Linked DNA regions of Homo sapiens. The protein of the gene in region 1 purifies or fractionates together with the protein of each later gene. This does not show direct contact. Each region holds a gene or a part of one and is shown on either strand. Other genes may lie near its edges.

Evidence for each region.
Region 2: the proteins of ACOT6 (region 1) and KITLG purify together in Homo sapiens (affinity purification with mass spectrometry; one large-scale study listed by BioGRID and IntAct). This does not show direct contact.

Annotation. Positions count from the first base shown.
Region 1 is NC_000014.9:73,615,504-73,617,953, reverse strand, and holds part of ACOT6 (acyl-coenzyme A thioesterase 6), read right to left. Parts: intron 1,111-2,450; exon of another isoform or gene 961-1,110; coding exon 762-960; intron 1-761. UniProt on the Homo sapiens protein: Catalyzes the hydrolysis of acyl-CoAs into free fatty acids and coenzyme A (CoASH), regulating their respective intracellular levels.
Region 2 is NC_000012.12:88,517,961-88,521,474, reverse strand, and holds part of KITLG (kit ligand isoform b precursor), read left to right. Parts: intron 1-2,607; coding exon 2,608-2,778; intron 2,779-3,514. UniProt on the Homo sapiens protein: Ligand for the receptor-type protein-tyrosine kinase KIT. Plays an essential role in the regulation of cell survival and proliferation, hematopoiesis, stem cell maintenance, gametogenesis, mast cell development, migration and function, and in melanogenesis.

The DNA.
Region 1 (2,450 bases):
AGGCTGGTCTCAAACTCCTGACCTCAGGTGATCTGCCCGCCTTGGCCTCCCAAAGTACTGGGATTACAGACGTGAGCCACCGCACCTGGCCAAAATGTTTTAATTAATTAATTATTTCTGTTATCAGATAAGGACTTTCTTTACAAAACCATAATACCATTATCATACCCAACAAAATTAATGATTACTTCATATAATCAAATACACCATTCTCATTCAAATGTCTCCAGTTGTCTCAAAAAATATCTCTTTATAGTCATTTTCTCTATATACATTTACATTAATCTTATTAAGGAGGAAAATTGAACTCCAGAGAGAGTAACTGCCTTATTCAGAATCATAAGGCCACTCTGTGGTAGATGCAGAGCTGGAACTTTTTTTAGTCCTGTGCTCTTTGAATTTTGGTCCACAATTACAAAGACAACTAAATAGTCAAGTCTTCAGGGATTAGAGAGAGATGGGAGAAAATGGAAATAATAATCCTAGTACAAAAACTTTTTTTGAGACAGGGGTCTCACTAAATGTTGCCCAGGCTGGTCTTGAACTCCTGGGGTCAAGCAATCCCCCGGCCTCAGCCTCCCAGGTAGCTGGGACTACAGGTGCACATCACCATGCCCAGCTTCCACCCTAGTAACCTTTGAAGGAGACTTGGTATCTCCTGGCATGTTTCTAGTTCTCAGTGTTCTGGCAGGGCTTTTGGATTCAGCCCTGCATCAGCTCTATCCCCTCTCTTCTGCACTCAGGTGATCACCAGAACGCACCTTTGGATGCTGCAGCATAAAGTCCACGGCTTCTTCAAAGTACTCCAGATGTACATCATTCAGATCTTCGGGGAGGTCTTCAAATCTGAAATAAGCCAGGGCAAGCACAGCAAAACCATGTCCGGCCAGGAGGCTGGCCCTGTATTCACAAAGGCCCCTGCTGCTCCCAAACAGATCAATGATCCCAGGAAAGGGCCCCCTGCCTGGAGAACATCACAAATCACAGGGAGCTTTAGTTTCTCAAAAGACAGTAAGCAAACAAGTTTTTGAAGCCAAGGAGATTGGGGGTAGAGAGATTGGCAGAGAAAGAACAAAATGTCTTATTTTCTCAAACAATAATGATAATATAGAGGGATAAAAAACTACATATTGGGTACAATGTATACTACTCAGGCGACAGGTGCACTAAAATCTCAGCGTTCATCACTGTACAGTTCATCCGTGTAACCCCAAACCACCTGTACACCAAAAGGTATTGAAATTAAAAAAAAAATTTTTTTTTGACAGTCTCACTCTGTCGCCCAGGCTGAAGTGCAGTGGTGCAATCTCAGCTCACTGCAACCTCTGCCCCCTGGGTTCAAGCAATTCTCCTGCCTCAGCCCCCCAAGTATCTGGAATTACAGACATGCAACAGACACCCGGCTAATTTTTTTTGTATTTTTAGTAGAGACTGGGTTTTGCCATGTTGGCCAGGCTGGTCTTGAACTCCTGACCTCAGGTGATCTGCCCACCTTGGCCTCCCAAAGTGCTGCGATTACAGGTGTGAGCCACCGCAACCGGCCTAAAACTTTTTAATGATATAAATTATTGTCACACCACTGCACTCCAGCCTGGGTGACAGAGTGAGACTCTATCTCAAAAATAATAATAATAATAATATTATTTTCACAAACAAAAATAAACCAAGTTAGAAATAACATAATGAGGCCAGGTGTGGTGGTTCATGCCTATAATCCCAGTGCTTTGGGAGGTCAAGATAAGAGGACCACTTGAGGCCAGGAATTCACGACCAGCCTGGGCAACATAACAAGACCCATCTCTACAAAAAAGTTTAAAAAACTAGCTGGGCATGATGGCACTTGCCTATAGTCTTAGCTACTCAGGAGGAAGAGGCGGGAGGATCATCTGAGCCCAAGAGTTCCAGTTTGTGGTGACCTGTGATCACACCACTGCACTGTAGCCTGTAGATCACTGTAACCTTGAATCCTTGGGCTCAAGTGACCCTCCAGCCTCAAGAAGCCACCCTCCCAAGTAGCTAGGCCCCTATGCTTGGCTAATTTTTAACTTTTTATAGAAATAGGGTCTCACTATGCTGCCTGGGCTAGTCTCAAACTCCTGGCCTCAAGCAATCCTCCCACTGCAATGCTCCCACCTCGGCCTCTTCAAGTGCTGGGATTTTAAGTGCGAGCCACTGCACTCAGCCTGTTTGTTTGTTTGTTTGTTTGTTTGTTTGTTTGTTGAGACAAGGTTTCACTCTTGTTGCCCAGGCTGCAGTGCAATGGTGCGATCTCGGCTCACTGCAACCTCCGTCTCCCCCCGGGTTCAAGCGATTCTCCTGCCTCAGCCTCCCGAGTAGTTGGTATTACAGGCATGTGCCACCACACCTGGCTAATTTTGTATTTTTAGTAGAGATGGGGTTTCACCATGTTGGTGAGGCTGGTCTCAAACTCCTGACCTCAGATGATCCGC
Region 2 (3,514 bases), on another chromosome or scaffold:
AAAAGTACGTTTGTAAATTTGACAATCTTTAATCATTTATTTCATAATCATAATCGTGGAGGAATTGAAAAACAGAAAGACCTGCTATCACCTCACAAATGAAATACTTAGTTCATTGTGTTTTATTCTCCTTGCAAATCATTGACGATATTTAATTAAAAATTACAAAACTGCTAGACATTCCAGTCAAAACTAGTTTCCTCTCTTACAAGCAGGCAGATCAAAACTGACTGACATTTAATATTATTTGTTTACCTTCATTTTATCTTTAATAAACTCAAGAATCTTAAAAAGCCAATATATACATGGTTAAACAAATTACTGAAAAATAGAACTTTGAATTTATGATTCAGCCTTTTCCAAAGAAACAATAGCACAAGCAAAAATAAAAAATGAGTGAAACATGATTACAAGTGTTTTAGAAATACACGATTTTTCAGCTGTGTAGGCACGTAGTTTATATCAACTATCAACAAATTGTTCATGACTTTAGAAGGGCAAACATTAGAGTAGGATTAGATTGTGGAATTTCCATGGTTTAACTCTAAGAAAGCACAGGATTGGGGTTGGAAATTTTACTGGAAAGAGTTGATTGTTTAGACTGTTGATTTAGTTATGTGAAAATGGGAGGAGGTAGGGTAATAGCTAAATAGGAACTAGAATATAAAATGTAAACATAGAGTTCGGTTGAAAATAGTGATCAACAGAAGTGGCAGTAAGTACCCCAGAATTCCTCAGCTTAAAAATAAGAAACAAATCAACAAAACATTTTCTACTTTAACCACAAAAAAAAAGCAAAATGAACAAAGTACCCATTCATATAAGACAACTACCACAGAAACTAAAGGAATGTCTTAATTCAAAACAAGGAATTTGATTTTGGTTCTTACTTGCCAGAGATCCTAGGCAAGCATACTCATAAAGTGAGGAAATAGAGTCCTAAGAGATTAATACCTGGAATTTCATTGTTAGAAAAATTTGCACAATTTCAACGGAATGAATTGGTGAAAGCTACTCTATCACATAAATACTATTCAAATAGCAATTTACAGTGTATGCTGTGTTCCATATCCTAGGAAATCTGTTCATTGTTGATAGGGCTGACGGTCTATAAGGAATTATCACTCCCTAAAAGGAAAGAAACTTGCAGAGCAATTCAGCATCCAAGGAAAGACTGACAGCTTTGAAAGAGACCTGATAATGATGCAAGTAGGAACTTGCATGTGCTTGAAGTAAGCACTGATTTAACAAAACAAAGACTCTGTTCTGCACATACTTTGGAAACACATATTCTTTGAGAACTTGGTTATGACGAGTTGAAATGGCCACTTGAACTAAATTCCCATGTTGAGATTTGTTTATCCTTCTTATCTGAAGCCAGAGCCAACAATCCTAAAAGTTTTGAGTGACATTTAATGGTTCCAGGAATTGGGGCTTACCTATCTGCAGATAAACCTGCTTCCTTTTTGGCTGTATTATATTAAGTAAAACAGTTCTGTTAAATGAATATAAAGTGGTCCCTTCTATACTTTAGAATAAATAAATGACTTGAGCCAGATGCAGTGACTCACGCCTCTAATCCCAGCATTTTAGAATGCTGAGGAGGGAGGATTGCTTGAGGCCAGGAGTTCAAGAGCAGCCTGAGCAGCAAAGCAAGATCCCATTTATATAAAAAAATTAAAAATTAGCCACACTTGGTAGCATGCGCCTTGTAGTGCCAGCTACTTGGGAGGCTGAAGTGGGAAGATCACTTGGGCCCAGGAATTCAACATTGCAGTGAACCATGATTGCACCCCTGCACTACAGCCCAGGACTCAGAGAGAGAGCCTGTCTCTGTAAAAAATTAAAGCATAAATAAATAAATAAATAAATAAAAGGCTTGACTTTTCCCACAGAGATATTCTGCTGGTAAATAGAGAAATAAAGCTTAGTAGTTTGATTTATTTTCCATGACATCAGTTACTCTGAGTACAATATTTTTGTTACAAGTTGTATTAAATTATTTGTGCTTTTAATGAGCCAATTCAATGTTATTCTTAATAACAATGTTATTTTTGTCACTGCAGCATTTCAGCAGTGTTCAAAATACATCAGAGTTTCCACTTAAAAGATCTTTATAAGAGAAAAGATAACACATTAAAATCATATAAAGCATGCAAACTTACAACCTCCTCCTCCTGTTACAAGAGTCCCTCCTCCTATTACAATAGTCCCTCCTCCTCCTGTCACACTAGTCCCTTCTCTTCCTGTTACAATAACCCCTGTCCTCCTATTACAACATTTTAAGTAATGTAATATTAATTTTAAAAATCTGGCCAGGCACGGTGGTTCATGCTTGTAATCCCAGCACATTGGGAAGCTGAGACGGGTGGATCATTTGAGGTCAGGAAGTTTGAGACAGCCTGGCCAACATGGTGAAACTTCCTCTCTACTAAAAATAAAAAAGTAGCCAGGCATGGTGGCAGGCACTTGTAATCTGAGCTACTCGAGAGGCTGAGGCAGGAGAATCACTTGAGTAACTAAAACGATAGCTTTGAAGAGTACTCCGAGTTTTATGGCACTTACTTATTAAAATAGCTGTTTTGTCTCTTTTTTCATATCTTGCAGCCAAGTCATTGTTGGATAAGCGAGATGGTAGTACAATTGTCAGACAGCTTGACTGATCTTCTGGACAAGTTTTCAAATATTTCTGAAGGCTTGAGTAATTATTCCATCATAGACAAACTTGTGAATATAGTGGATGACCTTGTGGAGTGCGTGAAAGAAAACTCATCTAAGGTAACTTTGTGTTCATTGGGATTATTTTTCATTACGCTTCTCTAAAAACCCATGCTTCTTGGTGCTGTTGGGGAAAATGAGGCACCTTTATTTATGATATTTTGATTGTATAAACTTCAAATTTAAAAATCTTGTTCAGATGAGCAAAGAAAACAAGTATTTGCAGTTATACTGCAATACTGAAGTGCACATTCAAACTTAAATGTTGTCATCTAATACAAAAATAAAACTTATTTACATTACAATGCAAAATCAGTCCTGCCTTTATCTTTATTCTTCATAAGTGAAGTCCTTGAAACCTTTCTATTAAGTTACAAGTGTTCATTTAAATGGAAAATTGTCTGTAATAAACACATATCCTTTTATGCATAATGTAATCACCCCATAGGTCACAGCAAAGGAATACATTTTGGCTCCTCAAAGTCATTGGATAACTGATCATCACCAACTTCAGGATATGGGCATGACATATGGAATAGGCAATGTACTCCAGAAAATAAGAGTGAGATATTGGAGTTTAAATTCTGGCTCTGTCGCTAATGAGTTCTGTGAGCGTAACTTCTTTGTACCTCACTTTCTTTATCTTTAAAATGGGGGCAATGCCAGAATTCATCTAACAGGGTCGACGTTAGGTTATTTGCCATGAGTACTTTAACACCCTACCTAGCAAAATAAATATTAATAAAATTTGATGTTTTTTCATCACACTGTGTCTATAGCAAAATCATGCTTAGGA